7 linked regions of the Homo sapiens genome follow. The protein of the gene in region 7 purifies or fractionates together with the protein of the main gene of each other region. This does not show direct contact. Each region holds a gene or a part of one and is shown on either strand. Other genes may lie near its edges.

Evidence for each region.
Region 1: the proteins of RMC1 (region 7) and UMPS purify together in Homo sapiens (affinity purification with mass spectrometry; one large-scale study listed by BioGRID and IntAct). This does not show direct contact.
Region 2: the proteins of RMC1 (region 7) and POR purify together in Homo sapiens (affinity purification with mass spectrometry; one large-scale study listed by BioGRID and IntAct). This does not show direct contact.
Region 3: the proteins of RMC1 (region 7) and PLAA purify together in Homo sapiens (affinity purification with mass spectrometry; one large-scale study listed by BioGRID and IntAct). This does not show direct contact.
Region 4: the proteins of RMC1 (region 7) and PRSS56 purify together in Homo sapiens (affinity purification with mass spectrometry; one large-scale study listed by BioGRID and IntAct). This does not show direct contact.
Region 5: the proteins of RMC1 (region 7) and AGFG1 purify together in Homo sapiens (affinity purification with mass spectrometry; one large-scale study listed by BioGRID and IntAct). This does not show direct contact.
Region 6: the proteins of RMC1 (region 7) and SWAP70 fractionate together in Homo sapiens (co-fractionation; one large-scale study listed by BioGRID). This does not show direct contact.

Annotation. Positions count from the first base shown.
Region 1 is NC_000003.12:124,728,907-124,733,423, forward strand, and holds the start of UMPS (uridine 5'-monophosphate synthase), read left to right. Parts: upstream 1-1,545; 5' UTR 1,546-1,565; coding exon 1,566-1,721; intron 1,722-2,599; exon of another isoform or gene 2,600-2,698; intron 2,699-3,532; exon of another isoform or gene 3,533-3,610; intron 3,611-4,517. UniProt on the Homo sapiens protein: Bifunctional enzyme catalyzing the last two steps of de novo pyrimidine biosynthesis, orotate phosphoribosyltransferase (OPRT), which converts orotate to orotidine-5'-monophosphate (OMP), and orotidine-5'-monophosphate decarboxylase (ODC), the terminal enzymatic reaction that decarboxylates OMP to uridine monophosphate (UMP).
Region 2 is NC_000007.14:75,977,390-75,981,260, forward strand, and holds part of POR (NADPH--cytochrome P450 reductase), read left to right. Parts: intron 1-2,061; coding exon 2,062-2,190; intron 2,191-2,949; coding exon 2,950-3,099; intron 3,100-3,658; coding exon 3,659-3,783; intron 3,784-3,871. UniProt on the Homo sapiens protein: This enzyme is required for electron transfer from NADP to cytochrome P450 in microsomes. It can also provide electron transfer to heme oxygenase and cytochrome B5.
Region 3 is NC_000009.12:26,944,177-26,948,624, reverse strand, and holds the start of PLAA (phospholipase A-2-activating protein), read left to right. Parts: upstream 1-1,382; 5' UTR 1,383-1,579; coding exon 1,580-1,728; intron 1,729-4,448. UniProt on the Homo sapiens protein: Plays a role in protein ubiquitination, sorting and degradation through its association with VCP. Involved in ubiquitin-mediated membrane proteins trafficking to late endosomes in an ESCRT-dependent manner, and hence plays a role in synaptic vesicle recycling.
Region 4 is NC_000002.12:232,519,128-232,523,523, forward strand, and holds the start of PRSS56 (serine protease 56 isoform 2 precursor), read left to right. Parts: upstream 1-1,260; 5' UTR 1,261-1,471; coding exon 1,472-1,568; intron 1,569-2,193; coding exon 2,194-2,301; intron 2,302-2,688; coding exon 2,689-2,739; intron 2,740-2,843; coding exon 2,844-3,033; intron 3,034-3,387; coding exon 3,388-3,487; intron 3,488-3,574; coding exon 3,575-3,734; intron 3,735-3,932; coding exon 3,933-4,075; intron 4,076-4,288; coding exon 4,289-4,396. UniProt on the Homo sapiens protein: Serine protease required during eye development.
Region 5 is NC_000002.12:227,520,323-227,524,193, forward strand, and holds part of AGFG1 (arf-GAP domain and FG repeat-containing protein 1), read left to right. Parts: intron 1-3,440; coding exon 3,441-3,603; intron 3,604-3,871. UniProt on the Homo sapiens protein: Required for vesicle docking or fusion during acrosome biogenesis. May play a role in RNA trafficking or localization.
Region 6 is NC_000011.10:9,662,595-9,667,173, forward strand, and holds the start of SWAP70 (switch-associated protein 70), read left to right. Parts: upstream 1-1,482; 5' UTR 1,483-1,585; coding exon 1,586-1,684; intron 1,685-4,579.
Region 7 is NC_000018.10:23,509,873-23,513,743, forward strand, and holds part of RMC1 (regulator of MON1-CCZ1 complex), read left to right. Parts: intron 1-3,871. UniProt on the Homo sapiens protein: Component of the CCZ1-MON1 RAB7A guanine exchange factor (GEF). Acts as a positive regulator of CCZ1-MON1A/B function necessary for endosomal/autophagic flux and efficient RAB7A localization.

The sequences.
Region 1 (4,517 bases), on a different chromosome or scaffold from region 7:
CCTCGTGATCCGCCCGCCTCAGCCTCCCAAAGTGCTGGGATTACAGGCGTGAGCCACCGCGCCCGGCTTCTTCATTCTATTTTTGAGAAAATTGAGACTCATATAGCTCAAAATGCATTGCCAAAGATCACTCAGCCAGTAAGTAGAATGGGACTAAAATCCAAATGTTTTGGTTTGAAACTTCATGTTCTTTGTAGTGCACTATACAGCTATGCCTTATCTGTTCCTCTTTTTTAAAAAAGTATTTGTTATAGTTGACACATGATATCGTACACATTTATTGGGTACATAGTGCTATTTCAATACACACAATGTACAGTGATCAAATCAGAGTAATTCATATATTCCTCACCTTAAATATTTATCCTTTCTTTGTGTTGGGAACATTCAAACGCCCCTCTTCTAGCTATTTTAAAATATATAGTAAATTATTATTGACTACAGTCACCCTACAGTGCAATGGAACACTAGGACTTATTCCTCCTATCTAGCTGTAATTTGTGTCCTTTAACCACCCCCTACCCTTCCCAGCCTCTAGTGATTACTATTTTATTCTCTAGCTCCATGAGATCAACTTTTTTAGCTTCTGCATATGAGCGAGAACATTTGGTATTTATCTTCCTGTTCCTGGCTTGTTTCACTAACATAATGTCCTTCAGGTTCATCCACCTTGCTGCAAATGACAAGGTTTCATTCTTTATGTGAATTTAAGGGTTATTTTCCTTAAGCTAGAATAAAGTATTGCCTTATATACACAATGGAGAAGGGATTTATTTGTACAGATTATTTATTGATTATTTCTTTAAGGGATTTATTTGTAAAGACCAAATATGTTTGGATTTTCAGATTGTCTAGCAATATTATCCTCCTGGATAACCCTGATACCAATCAATTAACCGTCTTCTAACTCTCCTCCTTCCCTCCCTTACCTTTTCTACACCTATTACCTAAGCATTTGAGGTACGCCAAAGGAAATAAAAAAGTACTCCTCCAGGAAGCAGAGTACAGACAAAAGAGGTAATGAATACTGTAATGATCTAAGTGCTATATATTCCTATGTGCAAACTGCTATGGAACTGTCACGTACTAGATGCTATGAAGTTAATAAAAGAATTGAGTAAAGGTCCCTGTCTTTGATAACTTATATTCTATTTGGAGAAACATGGGGGGTAAATCTTGGCTAATAACTAGCAAATATAACATGTTAGGCCAAGGAGTAGAGATAATTAAGAGAACTAGTCGAGAAGGCATTGGCTATTAAAAAATGGACAGGATTTATGCAAACTCTCATGAAAGGTGGGACTTCATGATCCTACAGTCAATCTAGCTGTTCTGGGCTTTGAACCCCAGCGACCCCATCCAGAAGAAACCAGGAGAAGCACAAACTGGCGCTAGGTTCGCTACCATCCACCTGACCCTTGAGCCCGGGGAAACCCACGGGTGCAGCAAGCCGGGAAAGCTGCAGACGAGGCAGGCGGAAGAGGCGGGACTTCGCGGGTGACGTCATCGGGGCGCCGGAGGCCCGGGGCGCCTGGGAATTTGAAGCAAACAGGCAGCGCGCGACAATGGCGGTCGCTCGTGCAGCTTTGGGGCCATTGGTGACGGGTCTGTACGACGTGCAGGCTTTCAAGTTTGGGGACTTCGTGCTGAAGAGCGGGCTTTCCTCCCCCATCTACATCGATCTGCGGGGCATCGTGTCTCGACCGCGTCTTCTGAGTCAGGTGCTGGCCTAGGAAGGGAAAGGACAGGGCTTGGTGGCGGGAAGGAGGACAAGGAAATGGAAGAGGGTGACAGGAGTTGGGCCGTGAGTGAGAGCAAAAGAGCCAAGCAGGCAGACCGACCCTACTCTTGGTTTGGGGAGTAAGCATGAGAAGCACAGAGGCCAGGGGTTGGGCTCCTCGAGAGTCGTCTGTTCTTTCACCCACACGCTTAGACACGTGTTTTGCAAAAGTCGGGAAACCCAGTTTGGAACGCTTTCTGGCACTGAAGCACACTTGAATGAATTCTGTATATTTAACTCTTTAAGAAAATTAGACTTGCGGCCGGGCGTGGTGCCTCATGAGAGTAATACCAGCACTTTGGGATGCCTAAGTGGGCAGATCACCTGAGCCCCAGGAGTTCGAGACCAGCCTGGGCAACATGACGAGACCCCGTCTCTACAAAAAATTAGCTGGGTGTGGTGGCGCACGCCTGGGACGCTGAGGTGGGAGGATCACCTGAGCCTGGGAGGTCAAGGCTGCAATGAGCTGTCATTGCGCCACTGCACTCCAGCCTGGGCGACAAGTGAGACCCTGCCCTCAAAAAACAAACAAATAGACCGGGAAAACGTGGGTAGGCAGAGAATTCAGTAGCTGGGAAATTACTGGTGAGAAAAGGAAAATAGAACAACCAGAACTCTGTGATGTATACAAAATTTATCAGAGCCCAGAGAGACTTCAACCATACTCCCCTATGCAGCCCCGGGACAATTATTTAAAGGAATTTTGTCCCTGACTAGCTGCCTCTCCCATTATCTTAATGTACCTGGAATGTGTGATACAAAGAACAATGTATAGCTAATCAATCGCTTGTGTTATTATTTTATTTATTTATTTTTTAGATGGGATCTCTCTTACGTCACCCAGGCTGGAGTGCAGCTCTGTGATCATAGCTCACTGCAGCCTGGAACTCCTGGGCTTAAGAGATCTTCTTGCCTCGGGTGAGCACAGGGGCTCATGCCTGTAGTCCCAACTTTGGGAGGCTTTCTTTGGGAGGCTGAGGCGGGTGGATCACTTAAGGTCTGGAGTTCGAGACCAGCCTGGCCAACATGGTGAAACCCTGTCTCTACTGAAAATGCAAAAATTAGCTGGGCATGGTGGTGCACACCTGTAATCCCAGCTACTCAGGAGGCTGAGGCAGAAGAATCAGGAGGTTGCAGTTAGCCGAAATTGAGCCACTGCACTCCAGCCTGGGCAACAGAGGGAGACTGTCTCAGAAAAAAAAAAAAAAAAGAGATCCTCTTACCTCAACCTCTGAGTAGCTGGAACTACAGGCATGTGCCATCATGCCCACCAAATTAAAAATTTTTTTTTTTTGTAGAGAGGAGGTCTCACCATACTGCCCAGGCTCGTCTCAAACTCCTGGCCTCAAAAGATCCTCTTGCCTTGGCGGCTTCCCAAGTAGCTGGGACTACAAATGCCTGGTGCCACCCCCGGGCTACCTCCTGTTATTTCAATGCAAATTCTTGGTGAATATAGGAACTGCCCCTTCTTTTGCTTTAAAAATCCACTTGTAACTACTGTAATCGAAGCCTATAGTCAGGGCAACTACTCATATTAATTTTGCCTCAGCCTCTTCCTGTTAGGTCCACACTTGGAAGGGCTGTTTGGAAAGGGGAGTTGAATTTTGCACTGTGCGGCCAGAAGCAATAATTAAGACTAGAAGGTGGACATATTGGGAAAGCAGGTTTTTAGTCAATATAAGGAAAATTTTTGTACAAATTAGAGGTTTCTAATACAGTGCTTCTCAACTTTGAGTATATATGAATTACCTGGGAATTTTGTTAAAATGCAGAATCCATTTCTGTAGCTCTGAGACTAGACCTGAGGTTGTGCATTTCTAACAAAGTGCCAGCTGAAACTGCAGACCACACTGAGTAGAGGGCCGTAAATATGCTTTCCAATACAGTTTGCTACTAGCCACGTGTTACTATTGAGCATTATGAATTTTTAAGTTTAAATAGTCATATATGGCCAGTGGCTATCATATTGGACTGCAAAGATAGAGAACATTTCCATCATTGCAGAAAGTTCTATCAAGAAGACATATAAGTTTCCTCAGCCCACTTAAGGGTTTATGTTCACTAGGGACCACTTTGTGTGGTTATTGTAAAAAGTATTGAAGATAGGTTGGACTATTAAGGTTGCGGTACTTTGGACCATTAACTTCTCACCATCCAGAATCTTGCTATGGTGTATCTTAGCAATGTGGAGAATTACTAAGGATTTTCTAGGGAAAAATTGATTTATTTTAATAAGCCAGCTGATAAATGACAGAAAAAGTTTTTTGATAACTAGATCATGGTGTGTGTGTGTGTGTGTGTGTGTGTGTGTATTTTGGTGATTAACTGGGGAGGAGTTCAAAACATGGAGAGACTTGGGTATAACAAAACTTCTTTTCACATCTTATGCGAATAGAATTTCTCAGTATTTACACCCCAAAAAGCAATATAATTTATGCTAAACTCTAACTTCCCTTAATAAGTGATAATAAGTGATATTTGACTATAGTACTATATACACATTAGTGTACATAAAGTAATTGGAGAGGAAAGGTAGCATTAACTCACTAAAAATGCATTTTCCAAATCTGTTTTTATCTCTCTGTCAAAATTTGCAAATCATGTTTGAATTAATCATATGCTTGTTATAATTTAATGATATACAGAAGAATTCTCTTCTTTAAAAAGTACAATTTCCATTTTCTTTTCCTCAAGAGAATAGTTTCTCTTCAGTCCTTAAGGATTCAGCTCCTTACAT
Region 2 (3,871 bases), on a different chromosome or scaffold from region 7:
GATAAGAAGCTACTTCTACAGCTGCCTCTGAACATCACATAAGCCAGTAGCCAGGACTAGGAACTTGCAGTCTGGCTACCAAAACTATTAGAAATACCTCAGGTGGCTGGGTGCGGTGGCTCACGCCCGTAATCCCAGCACTTTGGGAGGCCAAGGTGGGCAGATCACCTGAGGTCAGGAGTTCGAGACCAGCCTGGCCAACGTGTTGAAACCCAGTCTCTACTAAAAATTCAAAAAAATTAGCCTAGCATAGTGGTGGGTGCCTGTAATCCCAGCTACTCAGGAGGCTGAGGCACGAGAATTGCTTGAACCCAGGAGGCAGAGGTTGCAGTGAACTGAGATCGTGCCATTACACTCCAATCTGGGCGTCAGAGCGAGACTCCGTCTCACACACAAAAATAAAAAAAAGAAAAGAAAAAAAGAAAAATGCCTTAGGCACTGAAGACCAGGCACTGCAGAGAACCTCACATGTGCATGAGGGGCCAGGAAGCCTTGGCCTCCCTTCCACCCTTCAGATCTTGCAAAGCACGTTCAATTGGCTGAACCGAATTGGCTGCAACTCCAGCCCCAACGGGCTCTGGGGAATAGGATTTCAGGCTTTTCAACAGCTGCTGGAGGAGGAGGGTGGACTGACGAGTATGTGAGCCAGCCCCTAGGACCTTTCCCTGTTGTAAAATTTTATAATGAATATGTATTTAACCAGCAAAACACATCCAGAATGCCCCATTTAGGGACCCTCGGTATATTTCTTGCCAGTCTGTTTTCTTTGTGCCTGTGGGTATAGAAAGAAAATACATATGTATGTTTTGATATACATATCTATTATTTATATAACACAATTGGATTGTATAGCCAGCCCTGCATATCCGTGAGTTCGGAGTTCAAGAATTCAACTGCAGACTGAAAATATTTGGAGAAAAAATGGATTGTTGTGTCTGTCCTGAACACATACTGTCATCTTACTGTTCCCTAAACAATACAGCATAGCAACTATTTACAGAGAATTTACATTACATTAAGTATTACATTAATAAGTAATCTAGAGATGATTTAAAGTATGTTGGAGGATGTGTGTAGGCTACACACAAATACCACATCATTTTATAGCAGGGACTTGAGCATCCTTGGATTTTTGTTTTTTGGGTTTTTTTGTGATGGAGTTTTGCTCTTGTAGCCCAGGCTGGAGTGCAATGGCGCGATCTCGGCTCACCACAACCTCTGCCTCCCAGGTCCAAGCGATTCTCCTGCCTCAGCCTCCCAAGTAGCTGGGATTACAGGCATGTGCCACCATGCCCGGCTAATTTTGTATTTTTAGTAGAGACAGGGTTTTCTCCATATTGGTCAGGCTGGTCTTGAACTCTCGACCTCAAGTCATCCACCCGCCTTGGCCTCCCAAAGTGCTGGGATTATAGGCGTGAGCCACTGGAGGTGGAGTCTTGCTCTGTCACCCAGGCTGGAGTGCAGTGGCGTGTTCTCAGTTCACTGCAACCTCCACCTCCTGGGTTCAAGCTGTTTTCCTGCCTCAGCCTCCCTAGTAACTGGGATTACAGGTGCACGCCACCATGCCCGGCTAATTTTTGTAGTTTTAGTAGAGATGGAGTTTCACCATGTTGGTCAGGCTGGTCTTGAACTCCTGACCTCAGGTAATCTGCCAGCCTCAGCCTCCCAAAGTGCTGGGATCACAGGTGTGAGCCACCACGCCCGGCTGCATCCTTGGATGTAAGTATCTATGGGAGGTCCTGGAACCATTCCCCCACGGATAGGGGCTATACATTTGGTTACTTTTTTTAACTTTGTTTTTTCCCCGTGTCATGAAAATGTCAGAAGTGTGATCTTGAGCAGCCGCGTGTGTGAGATTGCCTTGGTGACCTTTGCCCTCCTTTGCCACAGTGGCTGTGACAGTGAGAAGCAAGTCCCAGAGGAACTTAGAAGGGACTCAAAGCCAGGAAGGAAAGGGGGCGGCCTGGAGGGCCCCCGCCTGCCAGGCCTGCCCAGTGGGTGTTCACCGGAGCCGTGGCTGAGGTCTGTGGCCCTCACCAACCCTGTGTCTGCCTTCCTTAGGGGAGGAACATCATCGTGTTCTACGGCTCCCAGACGGGGACTGCAGAGGAGTTTGCCAACCGCCTGTCCAAGGACGCCCACCGCTACGGGATGCGAGGCATGTCAGCGGACCCTGAGGAGTATGACCTGGTAAGCTGCCACCGCGTGCTGGCCCCAGATGGAGGCAGTGGGTAGGACAGGGAGCAGGTCTGTAGGGCGCCCCTCAGCAGGGGGAGGCCGGCAGGGAGTGGGGTCCTGGGAAGACGTCCTCGGAAGTTGCCTTCCCGTGAGGGTCATTGCCATCCCTGCCCGGGCTGACTGACGGAAGGGCCATTCCTGCAGTTGCAGCCACGTGCCAGGCATCGTTTCCCCAGGACTGGCCCTCCCCTGAGTGCCGGCTGCCCTCCTGGCGGCCGCCACATCTCCCAAACCAAACCCACCCTCCCCAGCTGCTCCACTCCCCTCTCCTTCGAGGTCTTGGTGACGGGCACTACCCCACAGCCCTCTCCAGGCTGCATTTGCAGTTGATGAACAGTTTAGTTAGATATCAGTGTGCACCGGGGCTGTGCGGTGCCTGGGAGCTTTGGAATGAGGTTCCCAGGGTGGCCCCAGACCTGCATCAGCTCAGGAGGCTGCATTCTGATGGCTCTTTTGTGCCAAGCTTCACTTTCCTCTAGAAACACATCCTCTCCGCTCCAGCCTAACACGGGTGACCTTGTCCTGCCCACCTGGCACAAATGCCCATGCCCCAGCCCCTCCGTGTTGTTACTTCTCTCTGATCCCACGACACTCAGACATCCCTGGCCTGGTGCCACCCTGGGCAGGACCTGGCCTTCCCCATCTGGTGCGGGTTGAACCTTGAACAGGCTCAGTCATGGCCGGGGCGCGGTCCTGTCCCTGTTTCTGCAGGCCGACCTGAGCAGCCTGCCAGAGATCGACAACGCCCTGGTGGTTTTCTGCATGGCCACCTACGGTGAGGGAGACCCCACCGACAATGCCCAGGACTTCTACGACTGGCTGCAGGAGACAGACGTGGATCTCTCTGGGGTCAAGTTCGCGGTGAGTCACCCAGAGACTGCTATGGGCTCCCGGTGGCCTGCGGTGCCTCCCTGGGGACTCCAGATCCATGTATCTGAAAGGCAGCCCTCCAGACCCCCACCCTGTCCTCAGCAGCCAGGGCAGGCCACTTGTGAGACCCTCTCCTCTGCCCCAGACCCCAGCACTACGAGAATGTCCCCTCCCTGTCCCCAGCCCCAGTCGGCTCCAGGGGGCATTGGGTGCTGGAGACTAAAGGCAAGAAAGGTCTGGCTGGACGACTGAGACCTGCCTGGCCTCGGAGAGCTGGAGCCCCAGCCCGGTGGGGAGGGTGGGCTGGCCCCGCTTCCCTGTGGGTTGAGGCTGGCAGTGGACGGGGCAGGCTGTGGGCTGCAGGTCAACCAGATGAAGCCTCTTCAGTGGCCCAGTGTTCCTTGCAGTGCGAGGCGCCTGGTGGAACGGAGGCCTGCAGGTGTTGCCAGCAGCTCAGCCAGTGCTGTGGGGCCTCCCGCCCTGCCCCCATGGCCCCTCCCACTGGTCAGGTCGAGGGCCAGGCCTCAGAGCGGCCCCTGTGTCCACGCAGGTGTTTGGTCTTGGGAACAAGACCTACGAGCACTTCAATGCCATGGGCAAGTACGTGGACAAGCGGCTGGAGCAGCTCGGCGCCCAGCGCATCTTTGAGCTGGGGTTGGGCGACGACGATGGGAAGTGAGTGCCCACCCTGCCACCATGATCAGCGCGGCGGGCTTAGGCAGGGGCCGTGGAACGTGAGGGGCGCGCACACCATTGTGTCAGC
Region 3 (4,448 bases), on a different chromosome or scaffold from region 7:
CATGGTGGCGCGCTCCTGTAGTCCCAGCTACTCGGGAGGCTGAGGCAGGAATCGCTTGAACCCGGGAGGCGAGGGTTGCAGTGAGCCGAGATCGCGCCACTGCACTCAGCCTGGCAGCAGAGCGACACTCCGTCTCAAAAAAAAAAAAAAAAAAAAAAAAAAAAAAAAAAAAAAAATAATGGAAAGCCATCACAGGTTGTCAAACAGAGAAAAAACAATTAAGTGTATATTTCAGAAAGATAATTATATTTTAATGTGTAGGATTGGCTGGAGAGAAGGGGTAGAAAGGCCAGAGAAATGTTGAAATAATTTAAGTAGGACTAATTGGTACAGATTTCTAACAGATAGCTAGAAATACAGATCTAGAGTTTGGAGAAGACAATATGGGAATACAGCTCTAGAAATAAGCCAAGTAGTAAATAATCCACCCAGGGAGGGGATATGATAGCAAAGAAGTATCAAAAGTCAGCATTTCAAGAATGATCTCCCAAACCAGGGGAAAAGTGATTCCAAACCTAGAGTAGGAGTTTTAGGAAGGGAGAAGTCAGAAAAGTGTGAATTGGGCTTAGCAATTTAGAAAGGTTTGTGGAAAAGTGTAGTTGGATGCGAGAGAATAGCGGATGGGAAGAAAACAAAGTAAGGAGACAGGTCATGTTTACCCTGGCACTCAATAAGGTCTGATAATGACTAGCAAGTAGCACCACGGGTGGGTGGGCGGCGGGGTTGTTAAAAATACGTATCTCAGCTCTAACTCAGACCTACTGAATCAGAATCTACATTTTAACAAGCCGCCAGAGAAAAGTAGTTATACCTTTAAAAAATTGACTTGGACCACCGTATTTGCTAAATTTGACAACAGAGAGTAGGAGATTCAGATAACTTGAAACGGAGGAATAGTTCAATGATTAATAGTTCCCAATTTGGCCTCAAGCTTTCTCGTTTTAATTGAAAAACAAGGTTAACTTGCAAAAACCTCGAGATTCTCAGGGAAAAGCAGTGAGGATGACCTAACAGTAGACACCAAACAACCTCACTCAGCCATTCCGCCATGCCCAGCGCGAAAGACTCAGGTTTAAAATATCCGGATTCGGCGCGCCGGATGTCCACGCCAGCTGGCGCGGCATTATGGGAATTGTAGTCCCGGCCCGCTTCCCGATTTACCACAAACTGTTGGGCCCGGAGTCGGAAGAGACCCGGGTTTGGGAAGGACCCCAGGGTCAGGCGTCCTGGTGGAAGGGCGGGCCTCTTTCTCTCTTGCTCAGCAGGGAGTCCAGAGCCCTGGAGGAAAGCCAGCTCAGCTCCGCATCGGCGTCGGCGGTTGGGACGCACACACTCTGCGTCATGGAGGGCTGAGGCCGATGATGAATTCCGGAGTGCCTGTCAGGCTTGCTGTGTCACTCGGCCCGCTCGGCGCGCCCCTTCCCAGCCGCCCTTCCGTACCGGCTCTCGGGCTCTTCCGGTCTCCGGCCGCCCCTTACCTGCAGGCTCTTCTCCCGCCGCGGCCCGGCGCTCTCCGAGTCGCCCCTGCGGACTGGTCTCGCACAGTGCCTGGGCACCGGGCGCCAGACAGACACTGGCCATGACGAGCGGCGCAACCAGGTACCGGCTGAGCTGCTCGCTCCGGGGCCACGAGCTGGACGTACGGGGCCTGGTGTGCTGCGCCTATCCGCCGGGAGCCTTTGTGTCCGTGTCCCGAGACCGCACCACCCGCCTCTGGGCCCCAGACAGGTGAGCGCTGGGAGTCGGGTTGCCCCGGCTGTGTTGCACGCTTCCCGGAGAGTGGAAGGAGAGTGACCCTTCCCTGTCAGTCCTGCCGTCTCTCTCTCCCCCCAGCCTTCCCTCTGCTCTCCGCTCCCTTCCAATTCTCAGACTATTAGAACTCTGTAAGAAACCATCGGGATTTAAGTGGAAAGAGCACAGGGTTGGGGGACCAAAGACCTGCCTTGTTGTGCTAACTTGACCACAGACGAGTCTCCTACCTTTTGGGCCTTCAGTTTTTGGACGATGATCTCCCAAGTTTCTTTTAGACTTGAAAATTTACTGATTGCAGTTGCACCCTCCGAAGTGAGGTAGTTTGAAGGCATCTGAAATGTCCTCTTTTTTTTTTTTTTTCGAAGAAGATGCTCTGTAGTCTTCTGTAAAATTTAATTTTTGAAGACTTTAGTTCTCAAAAATTGCACTGGTGAATCCTCTTTTCGTCCAGGTTAGAATTTTAGTCTGTGGTCTGTGCTGGTCCTGAGGGAGTGAAACCTCTCGGATGTTTTGTTTCTGTGCATGTGCTGTTTCTTGAGGAGAAGCAGCATCCATTGCCTTCAAAGGATTTATCAGAAGGGTTCACGAACCAAAAAAAAAAAGAAGAAAAAGGTTAGGAATCAGTCCTGATCGAGTTCACGGGTTCAGCCCTGATTTGGCTGGTTGTAACAGGATATTTAAGACCTAGAAGACAGATTGCAGTTCAGAGAAAGAAAAATTGAGGTTAGTTATTTTGTTATTTAGTAGGTCTCCCACTGCTAGAGATTTTAGAATTTGAGTCACCATCCATAAATTCAGTTGATAACTGTTGAGTGCCTCCTCTTTGTTTGGGATACTGGAGAGGAATAAAGACAGACAAGTTGCCAGTGTTTCTGGAGCTTTCTTACAGTCTGATGGGGAAGATAGATTAAAAAACAAGCCAATAAATAATTAAAAACTGGCATGTGAAGAAAACATACAGTTAATTAGGTGGAGAGATATATTAAAGGAAGCCTCTCTGAGGAGTTGTTTGTTTAAAGTTGACATTTGAAGCATGAGATGGATGGAGCTGGTCGTGGAAGAGCAAATAGGGAGGATTGAATTGGAAGAGCATTCCAGGCAGCTGGAGGAGCAAACAGGAGGGAATTAGCTGTGAGGTGAGGGCAGGTTTTGAGGCTGGCAAGAGCCAGGTTATGGAGTTTGCAGATGGAAGCCTTCAAATAGTTTCAAGCAGGGAGCAACATGATCTGATTTCCGTGTTGAGAAGTTTCTGCTAGCTGATGGTAGAGAATAGATTGAGAAGGGATAAGTGTAGAAGTGGGTTTGCTTGGAGGCTTTTGAAGTAGTATAATCAACACAAGATGGTCCACTAGGCTAGGGATAGTATAGAGCAAATTCCTGTATTGAATTGAATGAGATGATCTCTAAAGATCTAACTCTAAAATTCTATAATATCCAAAACTACTTAGTAATACTAATATGGAACTTTTTGTTTGAGTACAGTTATTAAGTTTTTGCCTTTAAAATTGAATCCAGTAGAAGCATAAGCCCAGTAGAATATAACCATTGCAGTAAGGAGTATAATCAAGGATGCCTGTTTTAATAATGGAATCCTGTCATTAAACTTTTGGGACTGTACTAGTTTGACAAGGGTTTAATCACTGGAGTGGTTGTGCTTACCAGGAACTTGAAGAACTTTGGGCTGAACTGATTCTCTATTTGAAAAGTGATTTTGTTGTTCATTGAACTATTGATTTTTTTTTTTTGAGACAGAGTTTTGCTCTTGTTGCCCAGGCTGGAGTGCAATGGCACAATCTTGGCTCACTGCAACCTCCGCCTCCGGGGTTCAAGCGATTCTCTTGCCTCAGCCTCCCAAGAAGCTGTGATTACAGGCATGTGCCACCATGCCCGGCTAATTTTGTATTTTTAGTAGAGATGGGGTTTCTCCATGTTGGTCAGGCTGGTCTTGAACTCCTGACCTCAGGTGATCTGCCCACCTTGGCCTCCCAGTGTTGGGATTACAGGCGTGAGCCACCACGCCTGGCCGAACTCATGATTTTTTTGTTTTTGTTTTTCAAAATTCATTCCTGTATGTATTTATCTAACACTGATGAAGAACTTGCATTTTGCCACAGTGTGTGTTAGTGCGTAGTGAGATAAGATTATTTAGTCTCTCATATCCTGCTGGTTAGGTTAGCAAGCTTGTCCATCCTGTGGCCCATGGGTGGCTGTAAGAGTGGCCCAACACAAATTTCATAAACTTTCTTAAAACATTATGAGGCTTTTTTTGTGATTTTTTTAAAAATGCTCATCAGCTATTGTAATTATTAGTGTATTTTATGCGTGGCCAAAGACAATTTTTCTTCCAATGTGGCCCAGGAAAGTCAAAAGATTGGATACCCCAGGGTTAGAGTGTTTCATAGTCATTAGGTGATTAAGCTCTTATTGATGCCAACTGAAGTGTCTCAACCATACCTTTAATGTTGTAAAAGTGTCCTCAAATCTGACATATTGACAATTTTTATTTCATGATACATGTCTTCTCTTTTGTGTTGCTGTAGCAGAATACCACAGACTGGGTAATTTGTAAAGAAAAGAAATGTATTTTTCATAGTTCTGGATGCTGGGAAGTCCATTATCAAGGTATCGGCATCTTGAGAGGGCCTCTTTGCTGCTGTATCATCCTATGGTGGAAGGGTAGGAGAGCACACAGCAAG
Region 4 (4,396 bases), on a different chromosome or scaffold from region 7:
TGTGAGGATTTCCCACCCACCTTCTCTGCTCCTGGGTCCCCTGCTTTGGTGGCTCTTACTGGGAACCGCAGGCGATCTTCCTTTGGACACTGTCTCTGTTTATGCTAAAATTCAAGCTGTGTTGAGCTAATGCCTTATCTACCAAGATTGTGGAGGTCATGGATAAAAAGATACCCTGCAAGATGGACAGATACTCTGGTGAATAGAGTCCTTTCCAACTTCACCAAATTCACTCACCAGAATCATCCGCAGACAGTATTTTCAGAGCATTCCTGAAGTAGAGGTATTGTCATGGCGAGGTGCGGTGGTAACTGGGGAAAGGGCTCCTTAGCATGGTGTGCTGGTCACTGTGGAACAGCTGGCTCTCCAGGGGGAAAGAGCCCCGGGTCATAGCATTTGCTGATAAATATTCCCACCAGTTCACCTCACATGAATTGGGGAGCCTGGGCAGCGCAGACGGGCACTATCCTACCCCAGGTGGTAACTCAGTCCCAGGAGAGCTGTGTGGCCCTGCCCATGAGACTCCAGAGGACTCCAGAAGAATCCCACTGCCAGATCAGGGTCACAGAACAATGCCGGACAGGCAGAGCGGGCACTGTGCAGGGCCAGGGGGTCTGGGAGAGCGTCAGAAGCTGCTAGGGCCTGTCCTCCCGGAACTGGGCCACTGTGGGCCTTTCATCTCCCGCCTCCCTTTCCGCGCCACTCCTGCGGCTGCCTGCCTCTGCCCCTTCCCACCCCACCACCCCCAGTGCGGCAATTACGGCGCTAATTAGGCTGCTTTGATCATCTTTAGAAATGGCCACATTGGGGAGGGACTCTGCCAAGCAATTAGGGGCAGAGGGGTGGGGAGCTCCAGGGCTTCCTCAGGGGGTGGGGCTGCTGAGAAACCCCAGACACCCCCTGCCCTCCTCCCTCCAGGAGTGTCTGCCCCGTCATAGCTGTAAGCTCCTCAGGGGGTAGAGGCAGATGGGGATCCCCCCCCATCCCAGCCCTGGAGCCAGGGCCCGCCCCCACCCAGCAGCCCCCCTCTGCCTGGCCTGCAGCCCAACCGTCAGCCCTTCTTCCCTGTCTTGGCCCCTTTGATGGAGCCGCAGAAACAAGGGCTCCTTTGACAGAAGGGGGGCTCGGAGCTGGGATGATGAGACTTCAGAGGTGAAGGTCAAGCCCACTACCCCACTCCTCCCCCAGTCTTGGCCACCCTCCCGTGCACCCCTCCCCCAGGCTGTCCTCTATAAAGACCCTGCAGCCCCATTCCCCTGTGGGCTCCTAGGAGTTAAGGGCCAGGTGAGGGCTGACCAGGGAGGCGGGTAATTTTGATGTAAGAGAACGGGGTCAGATGATTTGAGGGACAAGAATTCAGTGCCCGGGGGCCGAAAGGCAGCAGAAGGCGGGCACCAAAGGATAGGCACCCGGAAGGTGGACTCCGAGGAGGAGAGAGGACAGGGGTCTCTCACCCCAGCTCCTGGTCACCATGCTGCTGGCTGTGCTGCTGCTGCTACCCCTCCCAAGCTCATGGTTTGCCCACGGGCACCCACTGTACACACGCCTGCCCCCCAGCGCCCTGCAAGGTAAGTCCAGGCTGGCCCGAGAGCCGCGGGGTTGGGAGGAATGTAGAGGAAGTGGGACCCTGGGCGGGCGGGGACAGAAGAGCTTGTCACCCCCACTCATAAGGACCTTTGGCTCCTTCTGCCCACCCTGCTGCGAGAAGGGGCCAAGAACTGAGATATAGGTGGGAGAGGAGGGGTGTGGCGGGAAAGGGAAGGGGAGCTGTTGAGCATGCCGAAAGGAATGGAGAGAAGGCCCCAAGAAGCAGAGAGAAACGGCCCGGGGCAGCACCCTGCCCTTGGCTGTCCCGGCCGAAGGTGGGCCACTCAAACACAGCTACTTTCAGTCAATAAAGCTGAGTTCTGCGATGTCTGTATCTTTGGGGTGGTGTCTTTAAAAAAAATTGTTAAGGAAAAGCACCTTTCAAAGATCCCAGTCCAGCTCAGTTGAATTAGGGAGACATCTTGGGCTGAGAACCTGGGAGCACGGGCTCTGAGTGCTGGGCCCAGCGTCCCCGGGGCTCACTTGCCTCCTCATTCTGTCCCAGGCTGGTGGGTCTCCCGAGGCAGGGCTCAGGGCTGGGGCCAGGAGGATGAGGCTGAGGCTCTTCCCCAACCACGCATGATTGTGTGCCCCCTGTCCCAGCAGTTCTGTCGGCCCAGGGGACTCAGGCGTTGCAGGCAGCCCAGAGGAGCGCCCAGTGGGCAATAAACCGAGTGGCGATGGAGATCCAGCACAGATCGCACGAGTGCCGAGGTGCCCACCCTGCCCCCCGTGCCCCAGTGAGCTTGCTGCCTACCCTGGGCCCATTCTGCTGCCTCTGTCCCTTCCCTTCAGTCTTCACTCTCCTCTTGGGGGCAGAGACTGTGTTGGGCCGCAACCTAGACTACGTTTGTGAAGGTCTGTCTCTCCGAGTGGAAAGGACACGCTAGGCTTGGGGCATGGCCTGTGCAAAGGCAGGGAGGCGGAAACACTCTGGGCTCCTGTGGTGACCAGGAGAAGTTCATGGTTGCTGAAATAGAACCCGTGTGGGCTGGAGGGCTGAGCGCGAAAGGAGAGATGGGGAGAGAGAGGCTCGGCCCAGCCTGGGGTGAGGACAGGCGAGAGGGCAGCAGTGAGACTCAAAGGTCTGTTTCTCTGCAGGATCTGGGCGCCCCAGGCCTCAAGCTCTCCTCCAGGACCCACCTGAGCCAGGTGAGGTTGAAAAGGCTCGAGGGGGCAGGCCTGAGAGCCGGGTGGGCCTCGAAGGCGAGGATGGCCAGAACATGTCCCTCGTGACACCCCTTGCCCCTTTCTAGGGCCGTGCGGCGAGAGGCGTCCGAGCACTGCCAATGTGACGCGGGCCCACGGCCGCATCGTGGGGGGCAGCGCGGCGCCGCCCGGGGCCTGGCCCTGGCTGGTGAGGCTGCAGCTCGGCGGGCAGCCTCTGTGCGGCGGCGTCCTGGTAGCGGCCTCCTGGGTGCTCACGGCAGCGCACTGCTTTGTAGGGTAAGTAGGACCCCCAGGCCTTGCCCAGCTGGGGTCCCCGGCGCTGGGCCCCGCACCTGCCGGGTTGTCCGGCGGGCGACGCGCGGGAAAGGTGGTCTCTGCTGCCCCCTGGCGGCGGCCGGCCCCGGGCTTCCCCATCTCAAGGCGCCGCGCCCGCCCCGCCAGGATGCCAGCCCGGAGGGGGTGGCACGGCCGGGCGAGTTCGCCCCCTCTGGGACGGGACCCCTCCCCGGCCCGCCCTCCGTGCCCCCAGGTGGAGAAAGCCCGGCATGCGGGCGGAGGGGCAGGGTCTCCGAGGGGCCTGCGGGGTGTGCCCCTGTCCTTCCTGCGTCTCAGCTGCCGCTCGACCCGCAGCGCCCCGAATGAGCTTCTGTGGACTGTGACGCTGGCAGAGGGGTCCCGGGGGGAGCAAGCGGAGGAGGTGCCAGTGAACCGCATCCTGCCCCACCCCAAGGTGAGAAGGCAGTCCCCAGGCCCCCAAGGCTGGGCACCGCACCCCCACCCGTGCTTCCTTGACCCTGCGCCGCCTCCCCCTCCTCAGTTTGACCCGCGGACCTTCCACAACGACCTGGCCCTGGTGCAGCTGTGGACGCCGGTGAGCCCGGGGGGATCGGCGCGCCCCGTGTGCCTGCCCCAGGAGCCCCAGGAGCCCCCTGCCGGAACCGCCTGCGCCATCGCGGGCTGGGGCGCCCTCTTCGAAGGTACTGGGCGTGGGTGAGCCGGCGCGTGGTGGGAAGAACTGGGGGTCCGAGGTAATAGAGTGTAGGGAGGCCGGGTTGCCTTGGAAAAATGCTGCCTGCTCTTTCAAAGGGGGAGGAATCAAGGGGGGTGGTGGGAAGGGGACCCTCAAGGCGGGGCTCTTGCCCTCCAAACCTGAGCCTTCCACCCCTTCCCTGCAGACGGGCCTGAGGCTGAAGCAGTGAGAGAGGCCCGTGTTCCCCTGCTCAGCACCGACACCTGCCGAAGAGCCCTGGGGCCCGGGCTGCGCCCCAGCACCATGCTCTGCGCCGGGTACCTGGCGGGGGGCGTTGACTCGTGCCAGGTATGAACCCAGTCTGATGAGAAAAGGCCGGCTGAGCCTTCCCAGGGCCACTACGGCCTCTTTTCCTTCCACGTCTGTCTGTCACTCGACTTCTCTGAGCCTCTCTGTCCTCATCCCTAAAATGGACACAAGTGGCAAGCTCACACCTGCCAGGCGTAAGGCAGGCGTCATAGGGGGCAGGTGAATGCAGCGTCCTCTCTCTTGGCCCCGCAGGGTGACTCGGGAGGCCCCCTGACCTGTTCTGAGCCTGGCCCCCGCCCTAGAGAGGTCCTGTTCGGAGTCACCTCCTGGGGGGACGGCTGCGGGGAGCCAGGGAAGCCC
Region 5 (3,871 bases), on a different chromosome or scaffold from region 7:
CCCTATCTCTGTTAGCTTCTTTAAATATGTTTTGCCCTACAAAGCCTCCGTTCTTAAAAATCATTAATTTAGCAAGTATTTACTGAGTCATATCTTTTTTTAATTTATTGAGTTTCATCTTCTGTATACTAGGCACTATGCTAAAGCTCTGGTGTAGTAATCCATCTACTTAATTGTCTGTTGTAGCCTTTGCTCAAAATATTTTTTCTTTTGACCTAAGAAATCAGTTTACTTTCTGGTTAAGAAGGGAGCATTTACTTTTCCCTAACTAAATCTATCAGATGTTAATTTTTAAAAATTAATTCCAACAGGTTGTACATATAGCTAGTAAGCCCCTTGCTATGGAATAGGGACTATATCTATAAAGCTAGTGTTCAGCTACTGAGGGTTCTTCATTTTTAGCTATATGAGCACAATTTAAGTTACTAAGACTCATTAACTATGAACTTTTGGTTATTTCTTTAATAGTATTGCATAGTGGATACTTTCATCTTGGGAGGTTAACAAGATGGGGCAGAGAGTCAAAATAGAGGGAATAAATAATGGGGAAGTAACGAGCTTCTTGTTTGCTTGAGGAACTCTGTTTCAACCCAAGAGAATCTGTTCAGAGCCTGTTTTGGTCCTGAGGGAACATTTGTTGTGGTTTACAGCAGAGGTCTTTACCTTCATTCAGGAGCACATTAGCTCTGACTTGCATGCTCTATCAAAATTTGTATTCTTACTACTTTCCAAAATAGACTACATTTTTCTTTTTTTTTTGGAGACTGAGTTTTGCTTTTGTCACCTAGGCTGGAGTGCAATGGTGCGATCTCGGCTCACTGCAACCCCCGCCTCCTGGGTTCAAGCAATTCTCATGCCTCAGCCTCCCAAGTAGCTGGGATTACAGGCACCCACCACCACGCCTGGCTAATTTTTTGCATTTTTAGTAGAGACAGGGTTTCGCCATGTTGGCCAGGCTGGTCTTGAACTCCTGACCTCAGGTGATCCACCTGCCTCAGCCTCCCAAAGTGCTGGGATTACAGTTGTGAGCCACTGTGCCCGGCCTAAAATAGACTACTTTTTGCAAGGCAAGATTAGTCAGGGCTATATTCAGCTGTACTAGAAGACATCAAGTATGAAAATAGATTAAAATACACCAGTAAAATTTAAGTTCAGGAAAGAAGAAAATACTAGAAGGTGGGTTGGTAGTAAAAATATGGTAGCATAAATGATTCTTTTAAAATGAAAGGTATAATTATCCTTTTATCATTTTGGTTCTGAATTTCCTAGACATTCTACCCTGTAGGAAAGACTGTTCTCCTTACATAGCCCTAACCTAGTTTTGTTTTCTCAGCCGTGTTACTTTTACCAATTCAGAAAGTGAGTTTGGTTAGGGATTAGTTTATGGTCAGCTCTAGCTATCAACAGAAAAGTGAGTGTGAGTAACAGTTGGTAGAATTAAAATCATAGATCCTTACCCCCACATTTATAACAGTAATGTATTATTCATTCAAACTATAACGCAAATACCTAGAAACCTCAAATAATTACAGTTTATGTTATTTTTTTTCTTTCCTGAGAAACAGGATAATAAGAGTTATACAAATAGAGACTTCAAGTGGTGGGACAGGTGACCATCATTAAGAGGGCCAGGACCTGTATGTTTTTAATCCAGACTGCTGCACACCTGTAACATACAGCTAGCAAGCAGTGAAATTGGTTTCTAACATGGAATAAGCACTATCCAGATGCAGCATCTCTAAAAATACTCACTGTAACTATACTTAAAACAGTGATGATGGTGTTATCCAAAGGGATTTTGAAACTGTTCTTTTGACCAGTTCTCAAAATCACTTTCTGTGTTATACTAGAAGACATCAGGTATGAAAATAGATTAAAATACACCAGTAAAATTTAAGTTCAGGAAAGAAGAAAATCCTAGAAGGTGGGTTGATAGTAAAAATATGGTAGCATATTACTTTGCCAGGTGAGTCTTTTGAACCAATAACTATCATTTGATTTTATCCTTTGATAAGACTTGGCTATACTGAAGAATTTGTATTAGTAGTATGCTAAATTATGGGAAAATATAACTTCTTGTATTCATTCTCATACATCTTTTATCTCTCCCATTTACTTGAAAGCAGTTGTTTGTGATTATTATGTAGTTTAGTGACAGTGAACACTTAGTTAACACGTATACCAGGAATTGTTCTCAGTGCTTTACAAATGTTAACTTGTTTAAACCTAGGCAACTCTGCCTCTCCATTTTATAAATGAAAAAAATGGAAGCACAAAGAGTTGAAGTATTAATAGTTTGCCCAAGGTTTCACAGCCATTTAGTGGTAGAGCTGGGATTTGAACTCTTGTCTCTGGAACAGGTGCTCTTAAGCATGGTTTTCCTTCTTTCCTCACCTACTTCATATGGGGAATAAGAAGGAGGGTAGGACAAAACCCAGAATTACAAAGAGCAAAAGCTCTCACATAATCCCACACCTAGAGGTCAGGATTGCCTATGTTTGGACATTATTATATCCTTGCTACCTCTCCTTTCTTGACTCGCCTCCTCACATAAATCATGTGTTTATATGACTGGAATCAAATCTGAAAGACCTGTGAAGTTTCCTCTTTCCATGTCAAAGCAGAGTAGCTATGAGTATTGTATTATCGTAAATTTTTTTTCCTTGATAGATGTTGGGTTTGTTTCCCAGTTTTTGTGAAATTATAAAGAGAGGACTGTGGTTAACATCCATGTGTACATGCATCTGTATACACTTACCAATTCTTAAGGATGTTTCTGGAAGTGGCACTTCTGGTGCACAAAGCACACCTATTTATATATTTTAGTAGGTAGCAATAAAAAATTGTAAAGTTCACACTTAGCTCATAGGTGAATAAAACCTTAATTTGCATTTTTGTCAGGTTAAAAGTGTTTTCATTTTTGTGTCTCCTGTCTTCTGTGAATTGCTTCTTTTGTTCATTTAAAATGGGATGATCTTATTCTTACAGATGTAATAAGCCTTTATATTTTAGGCTGTTAACTGTAATATTACAAATGTTTTCCTACCTCATCTTTCTTCAAATGTTATTTAGATCTTAAGATAATTTTAAAAATTATAGTATGAACTATTCATGGTGATGACTAATTGTAGGTCCTCTGTTTAAAAAAAGCAGTTATTTCTTATATTGTACTTAATATCTTAGAAAAACCATAAATAAGTAATTGAAACAAGTTTTGTGGTTAGTCTTCTCTTTTCTCTGAGTATTTCAAATATTTAATGGGTGTAGTCTTAAGCTGTCGTTCCTTTTTTAAAAAATATGCAAAGTTATTCTGTGTGAGAGGGTTTTCAGATAAGATTAATGGTGAAACAATCTTGTACAAAGTTAGAATTAAGCTTATCATTTTTTGATATAGAATTACCTACATTTTTTTTTAGTTAACTGTTTTTTACATGTTTTAGGTATGTCCCGCCAGAACAAGCCAAAGTCGTGGCATCAGTTCATGCATCTATTTCAGGGTCCTCTGCCAGTAGCACAAGCAGCACACCTGAGGTCAAACCACTGAAATCTCTTTTAGGGGATTCTGCACCAACACTGCACTTAAATAAGGGCACACCTAGTCAGGTGAGTAGTCTTTGAATCTTTGTAGGGAATTCGACTTAAAGAGGGCTTGAGTATCAAGAATTTGAGAATTGTTTAAGACAGCAGCATAATCTTGTATGCCAGTAGCATTATGTTCCAATGGTTTGTTATACATTAAGAAATTGTTGGTTAAGTGGTTGAAATGTATATATACTTGTTCTTTTTGCTATTGCTAATATGAGTTTCTTTGACTTCTCTGCAACTTTGTAAAGGTGAGTTATACAGGAATGTTGCTATAGCTATATATATG
Region 6 (4,579 bases), on a different chromosome or scaffold from region 7:
TCAGTGGGGCCATCCTCTCCTCTTCCCCACCAGTTCCTTTTTGATCTCAAACTCACTGAAGAGGCTCCTTCTTGTTCTTCTCTTTCCAAATATCCCTTTCTTATGAAGATCTTTTCCTTTCTTAATAAGGCAAACATGTGCATTAAGGAACTTAAAAAAGCAAAACAAAACCAAACTTCATCTGAGAACCACCTCATTTTAAAAACTCTTGGTGTTTATTGTTCTCTCCAATTAGTCCAGGATTGGAGAGGAGAGGTACTGAGCCTGGCGATTTAATCAGACCTTAGTTAACCGGCAATAGTTATTATCCTAGGATGCTAGTACTGCAAGAACCCTTCCAGAACATCTGGTGCAACCCTGCTCTTTTTATACGGGATAATTTGAAGCCCAAAGAGATCAAGTGACCATTGTGACCACCGCGAACAGATATTAATTCAACAGCTGCAATCGAATACTTTTTTTTTTTTTTTTGAGACGGAGTTTCACTCTTGTTGCCCAGGCTGGAGTGCAATGGCGCGATCTTGGTTCACTGCAACCTCCGCCTACCGGGTTCAAGCGATTCTCCTGCCTCAGCCTCCCGAGTAGCTGAGATTACAGGCATGTGCCACCACGCCCGGCTAATTTTGTATTTTTAGTAGAGACGGGGTTTCTTCATGTTGGTCAGGCTGGTCTCGAACCCCCGACCTCAGGTGATCCGCCCGCCTTGGCCTCCCAAAGGGCTGGGATTACAGGCGTGAGCCACCACGCCTGGCCGAATACGTTCTTTTAAATGGTCCATCTCTTTGGATTAGTAAAATGGGTGGAGTGATTTGGAATTGGCCCAGATCTCCTATTCTGCAAGCAGAGAAACACTACAGAGAGGTATTACCCAGGTCAAACCCCTCCTAAGATGTGAATTGAACAACAGCTAGGCGTTAGGAAGAAAATGCTGCCTGACCCTGACTTCTAAACTCCCCTTAAACGTCGTCGCTGTGTCCCTAGAACCCAAGATAGAGTATGCATGAATAAACTTTTGCGAAATGAACCAACAAACTTCCCTCGAGGTCCTTCCTGCCTCCCCGCCGCCCTGCATCTCCCCGACTTGGGACTGCGCTATCATTTCAGTCCTGGTCTGGGGACTTTTCGGGGTCTTCTCTGGCCTTCTCAGACAGTGACTCCGTTCCCAGGACAGGACCAGGGATCCCTTTTTCACTGCGGGGCGCTGGGAGGAGGCGGGTAGGCTGCTCACCTAATCTCTCGGGTTTTTCCTCAAGACGCGGTCATTTGTGTGAGGTGTTGTACTCGAGCACCCAAAATGGCCCGAACTGGTCTGGGAAACATTAGGGAGATGTGTTTACCGTCCTGGCTGACACTGAAGGCCAAGCATTCTTGCCACCAGGCGTGGCTTGACTCGCAGAACCCACACTCTGGCGGCTGTGGGCGCGGCACTGGACCGGCGCCGGCAGCAGGGCGGGGCCTGGCGGGGGCGGGGCCTGGCGGGTCAGGTGACTGCGCGGCGGGCTGTGGCTGCGGAGGTTGAGGGGCGTCCGAGGCGCGGAGGGGCTGGCTGGGCAGGAGGGGTTGGCGGGGCAGCAGGGCCGCGGCCATGGGGAGCTTGAAGGAGGAGCTGCTCAAAGCCATCTGGCACGCCTTCACCGCACTCGACCAGGACCACAGCGGCAAGGTCTCCAAGTCCCAGCTCAAGGTGGGCGCCTCCTGACCCGGCCCCCCACCCGACCCTCCCCGGCGCGCTCTGTACTTCCCTTGGGTGGAAGCGGGACCTGGCGGGCCGTGACCGCAGGGCGGGGCGGGTCGGAATGCGCCCGGTAGGCCCGCTTGGGGCGGAGTGGGTCTGAGACCGGGATTTGGTGTTTACTGCCTCCCCCTTGCCTTCGGGCCATGCCCTCGGTTGGATGTGTTAGTTCCCGCGGGTCTCCCAGGGACTGGGAAGGGTGGCGGGCATAAGGCTGGGGTGAAGTCTGGAGGGCCAAGTGTGATTCCTTCTTGGCGTTGGAGAGCGGGGGGCAGAAAGTGGATTCTGAGGCGGCAATGGGAAGCTCCCTTACACAGCCTTCCCAGAATTTTCCTCTTACTCCAGGAGAGGAAGGGACTTGCCCAAGGTCGCTGGGCAGAACCTTCTGCAGCCCACAGCCCCACACCAGGACAGTCCTCAAAACGGCTAGCTGCCCCGGAGGCGACAGGGCAGTCCGGAGACGCAGAAATGCCCCGAAGCCCGGCCTCCAGGGTCCTTCTCCTTTGGGAGGCTTTTTGACTTGGGAAGACCTTCCGCCCAGCGTCTTTTAAGTTTGGAACTAGTGGACGGGGTGTACTGTGTCCCACAGGGACCTTAGTTCCGGGTGAGGAGCGCTGATCTTTCTGGCACCCTGCAAAAGCGACTGCTTTTTCAGAGTCGTTATTGTGACTGCCGGAGACCCTAGAGTATAGGGTATAAATAAAGGGATGCTTGTAAATTGAGTAACCCCAAGCAGCGAAATTGGCATTAAGCCAGCAGAAATTGGCAGCTTCTTCAAAGTAAAAAAATATAGAAACAGACAAGAAAAGCTATTCATAGGCATTTAAAAATATACATATTTTAGATCCGAATGTCCGGTTTTCTTAGCCCCTTCTGGGAATAAATTCTGAAGATTGGGTTTGTTTTGTATATTTTTGTACAGTAATCCCGTTCTTCTGAGTAGTGGCTTTTATGCCAGTAGGACTTAACATTCTCCTTGTCTTCCTTTTGCCTCTCCTTTCTTTTTCTCACTGATAGAATCATAGTCTGGAAGGGTCCATGGAGATCATCCACGTAATTTTTATTTTACTTCATTTTTAAATATTAACATACAGTAAAATTGACTTTTGGTGTACAGTTCTATAAATTTCAACATATGTATAGATTTATATAACTATCACCACAACCATGGCTTCCTCAGTTCCATCATCCTAAAAAACTCCCTGATGTTGCCCTGCCTCCACCCCAACTGTCGGCAACCATTGATCTTTCCTAATTGCTATAGTTTTACCTTTTCCGAAGTGCCATGTAAATGGAGTCATATAGTTTGTAACTGTTGAAACTGATTTCTTTTACCCAGCATAATGCCTTAGAGATTAATCCATTTTGTTGTGTGTACCAATAATTTTTTAAATTGCTAAGTAATATTCTATTGCATGGATGTATGGTAGTTTTTAGCCATGCATCTGTGAGAATTTGTGTTATTTCCAGTTCGGGGGAGTTATGAGTAGGTCTACATTTTACTTTTATTTTTACTTTTAACTTACCTATGCCATTTTATTTAAAGTAAGTTTTTAATAAATAGATGTAGCTGGGTCTTTTTTTTTATTCATTCTGACAATCTCTGTCTTTTAATTGGTATATTTAGGCCATTTACATTTAATGTAATTATTGATATGGTTTGATTTAGGGCTACCATTTTATTATAATTTGGTTTCTGCTTTTTTTTTTTCCTCTCTTTTTCTTCCATCTTTGGGATTATTTGAATATGCTTTAGTTTTTTGTTTTTTTTTTTTCTGAGACACAGTCTTGCCCTGTTGCCCAGGCTGGAGTGCGGTGGTGTGATCTCGGCTCACTGCAACGTCTGTCTCCTAGGTTCTAGAGATTCTCGTGCCTCAGCCTCCCAAGTAGCTGGGATTGCAGGTGTGCGTCACCACACCTAGCTAATTTTTGTATTTTTAGTAGAAACGGGGTTTCACCATGTTGGCCAGGCTGGTCTTGAACTCCTGAGCTCAGGTGATCTGCCCTCCTTGGTTTCATGAAGTGCTAGGATTACAAGTGTGACCCACTGTGCCTGGCCAATATTTCATTTTAATAGAGTTTTTTACTATATTTCTTCATGTAGGTTTTTTTAGTACTTGCTCTAGGAGTTAGAATATCCATCCCTAACTTTTCATAGTGTACTTAGAGTTAATATTTTACCACTTTAAGGAGAATGTAGAAAACTTATCACCATATAGGTCCCTTTACTCTCACTGCTTTATGTTGTAATTGTCATATTTATTAATCTACATACATTGAAATCCCCATCAGACAATATTAAATTTTTTGCTTTCAACCATCATTTCTCTTTTAAAGATCTTAAGAGGAGAAGAAAATTTTATTCTTTTTTTCCAGATATTCCCAGATGACCTCTTAATTTTTTTTTTTTTTTTTTGAGCCGGAGTTGCGCTCTGTCACCCAGGCTAGAGTGCAGTGGTGTGATCTCGGCTCACTGCAACCTCTGCCTCCCGGGTTCAAGCGATTCTCCTGCCTCAGCCTTCTGAGTAGCTGGGACTACAGACACGTGCCACCAAGCCTGGCTAATTTTTGTATTTTTAGTAGAGATGGGGTTTCACCATATTGGCCAGGGTGGTCTCAAACTCCTGACCTCGTGATCTGCCCGCCTTGGCCCTGCAAAGTGCTGGGACTACAGGTGCCCGCTGCCATGCCTGACTAATTTTTTTGTGTGTATGTTTTAGTAGAGACGGGGTTTCATTGTATTGCCCAGGCTGGTCTCGAACTCCTGAGCTCAGGCAATTTAACCAACTTGGCCTCCAGAAGTGCTAGGATTACAGGTGTGAGCAACTGCAATGATATGTTTAGTGA
Region 7 (3,871 bases):
AACTTTTTTGTAGAGACGAAGTCTTGCTATGTTGCCCAGGCTGGTGTCAAACTCCTAACCTCAACTCCTGCCTTGGCCACTCAGCTTTAGTCTCTTGCTGGGGATTTTATTCTTTTTTTTTTTTTTTATAATTGCAAGTAATAAATTAAAAAAAAAAAAAAGAAAAGAAAAAGGGCTTGGTGGCCCATGCCTGTAATTCCAGCTCTTTGGAAGGCCAAGGTGGGTGGATGGCTTGAGTCCAGGAGTCTGAGACCAGCCAGGCCAACATGATGAAATCCCATCTCTATAAAAAATACAAAATGTTAGTCAGGCATGGTGGTGTGCGCCTGTAGTCCCAGCTACTTGGGAGGCTGAAGTGGGAGGATTGCTTGAGCCTGGGAGGCAGGAGGTTGCAGTGAGCCAAGATCACAGCACTGCACTCCAGCCTGGATGACAGTGAGACCCCATCTCAAAAAAAAAAACAAAAACACAACAACATTAAAAAGTGGGCAAAGGCCAGGTACAGTGGCTCACACCTGTAATCCCAGCACTTTGGGAGACCGAGGTGGGCAGATCACCTGAGGTCAGGAGTTCGAGACCAGCATGGCCAACATGACGAAACCCTGTCTCTATTAAAAATACAAAAATTAGCCAGGTTGGTGGCAGGCACCTGTAATCCCAGCTACTAGGGAGGCTGAGGCCAGGGAATTGCTTGAACCTGGAAGGCGGAGCTTGTAGTGAGCTGAGATGGTGCCACTGCACTCCAGCCTGGGCAACAGAGCGAGACTCCGTCTCAAAAAAAAAAAAGTGGGCAAAGGACATGAGCAGACACTTTTTAAAAGAAGACACACATGCGACCAACAAACATAAAAGAGCTCAACATCACTGATCATTAGAGAAATGCAAATCAAAACCACAATGAGAAACTATCTCACACTAGTCAGCATAGCCATTATAAAAAAGTCAAAGAATAACAGATACTGGCAAGGTTGTGGAGAAAAGGGAACCCTTATGCACTATTGCTGGGAGTGTAAATTAGTTCAACCTTTGTGGAAAACAGTATGGCGATTCCTCAGAGAGCTAAAAGCAGAACTACTGTTTGACCTAGCAGCCCCATTACTGGGTGTAATATGCAGAGGAATATAAATTATTCTACCATAAAGGCACATGCACGTGAATGTTCATTGCAGCACTGTTCACAATGGCAAAGACATGGAATCATCCTAAATGCCCATCAGTGACAGATTGGATAAAGAAAATGTGGTACATATATACCATGGAATACTATGCAGCCATAAAAATGAACAAGATCATGTCTTTTGTGGGAACATGGATGGAGCTGGAGGCCATCATCCTTAGCAAACTAACACAGGAACAGAAAACCAAATACCACATGATCTCACTTCTAAGTGGGAGCTAAATGTAAGTTATGAATGCAAAGAAGGAAACAACAGACACGGGGGGCTACTTGAGCAGGGGAGGGTGGGAGGAGGGAGAGGAGCAGAAAAGATAACTATTGGGTACTGGACTTAATACCTGGGTGATGAAATAATCTGTACCACAAACCCCGTGACATGAGTTTACGTATGTAACAAACCTTCACATCTATCCCTGAACCTAAAAGTTAAAACAAAAAACATTCAAACATTGCAAGATATGTAATATGGAAAGCAAATGTTCCCTATAATCCCGATAAATAATTATTATGAACAGTTTGGTGCATATTCCTCTATTTTTAAAAATAAATACAAACTTCTTTTTAACAAAAAGGGGAATGTTGTATATAAACTTTTGCAGCTAGCTTTTTTTTTTTTTGTCCAAAGTGTATCTTGGACATCTTTCTATATTTTATTCTGACTGGGTAGTATTCCACTGTATGGATGGACTGCAGTTTAAAAATTTTCTTGTTATTGGACATTGGCTGGTTTTCCATTTTTTTGTGATTACAAATAACCCTTCAGTAACATGCTTGTACACACTTCTTTATATTAGAGGGAGAGTTGCAGTATAGGTACGAACATCTGAAAAGCTGAACCAGTATCGCCAAATTTCTTCTAGACATGTGTATTTTCACTAGCAATATAGGAACTTCTGCTTTTCATACCTTTAGGAGGACTGGATATTATCAGTCTATAGACATTTGCCAACCTGAGAGGTAGAAAGACTTTTTTTTTTTTTTTTTTTTCTGAGACAGAGTCTCACTCCGTCGCCCAGGCTGGAGTGCAATGGTGCGATCTCGGCTCACGGCAACCTCCACCTCCTGGGTTCAAGCAATTCTCCTGCCTCAGCCTCCCAAGTAGCTGGGTCTACAGGCGCCCAGCACCACGCCTGGCTAATTTTTGTATTTTTAGAAGAGGTGGGGTTTCACCATGTTGGCCAGGCTGGTCTTGAACCCCTGGCCTCAAATAATCCACCTATCTCGGCCCCCTAAAGTGCTGGGATTACAGGCGTGAGCCACCATGCCTGGCCGAAAGACATTTTAATTTGCATTTTACATTACTAGGGAAGTAAGCATCTTTTCATTTGTATATTGTCCATTTGTATTTTGTTAACTTCCTCTTAAAATTTTTTTATTTTGTAATAATTATTTTGAGACAGGATCTCTGTCACCCAGGCTGGAGTACAGTGGCACAATCACGGCTCACTGCAGCCTCGACCTCCTAGCCTCACGTAGTCCTCCCACCTCAGCTTCCTGAGTAGCTGGAACTACAGGTGTGTGCCAGCACGCCCAACTTAATTTTTTTTTCCTTTTTTTTTTTTTGTAGAGATGAGGTCTTGCTGTGTTGCCTAGACTGGTCTTGAACTCCTAGGTTCAAGCCATTCTTCTGCCTTGGCCTCCCAGAGTGCTGGGATTTATGGGCATGAGCCACTGTGTGTGGTCAAAAATATTTTTTTTACTGTGGTAAAAAAACATACAACATTTATTATCTTAACTGTTTTTAAGTGTTCAGTTCAGTAGTGTTAAGTATATTCATTCACATTGTTATGAAATAGCTCCAGAACTTTTTTCATCTTGTGAAACCAAAACTATCCAGTAAACAACTCCCCTTATCCCTTCCCTGCAGCCCCAGCAATCTCTATTTTACTTTCTGTTTCTATGAATTTGACTCCTTTTTTTTTAAGATGGAGTCTTGCTCTGTTGCCCAGGCTGGAGTGCAGTGGCGTGATCTCAGCTCACTGCAACCTCTGTCTCCTGGGTTCAGGCGATTCTCCTGTCTCAGCTTCCTGAATAGCTGGGATTACAGGTGTGCGCCACCACGCCTGGCTAATTTTTGTATTTTTGGTAGAGATGGGATTTCACCATGTTGGCCAAGCTGGTCTTGAACTCCTGACTTCAGGTGATCCACTCACCTCAGCCTCCCAAAGTGCTGGGATTACAGGCGTGAGCCACTGTGTCCGGCCGAATTTGATTACCTTTTATACTTCATATAAGTGAAATTATACAGTATTTGTCCCTTTGTGACTGGCTTATTTCATCTACCATAATTTCCTACAGGTTCCCCCATGCCATAGCATGTGATAGGGTTTCCTTTTTAAGACTGATAATACCGCACTGAGCGTATACACCACATTTTGCTTATCCATTCATCTGTTGAGGGACATTTGGGTTGCTTCTGCCTCTTGGCCATTGTGAATAGTGCTGCTGTCAATACAGGTATGCAGATACCGCTTCAAGATCCCGTTTTCAGTTCTTTTAGATTTATACCCAGAGTGAGATTGCTGGAGCAGATGGTAGTTCTGTTTCTGAATATTTTAGGGAACCGCTATACTGTTTTCCATAGCAGTTACACCATTTTGCAATCCCTCCAAGTGTACAAGGGTCCCAGTTTCTCCATATCCTCACCAACACTTGCTGTTTTGTTTTGTTTTGTTTTTGATACTAGCCATCTTA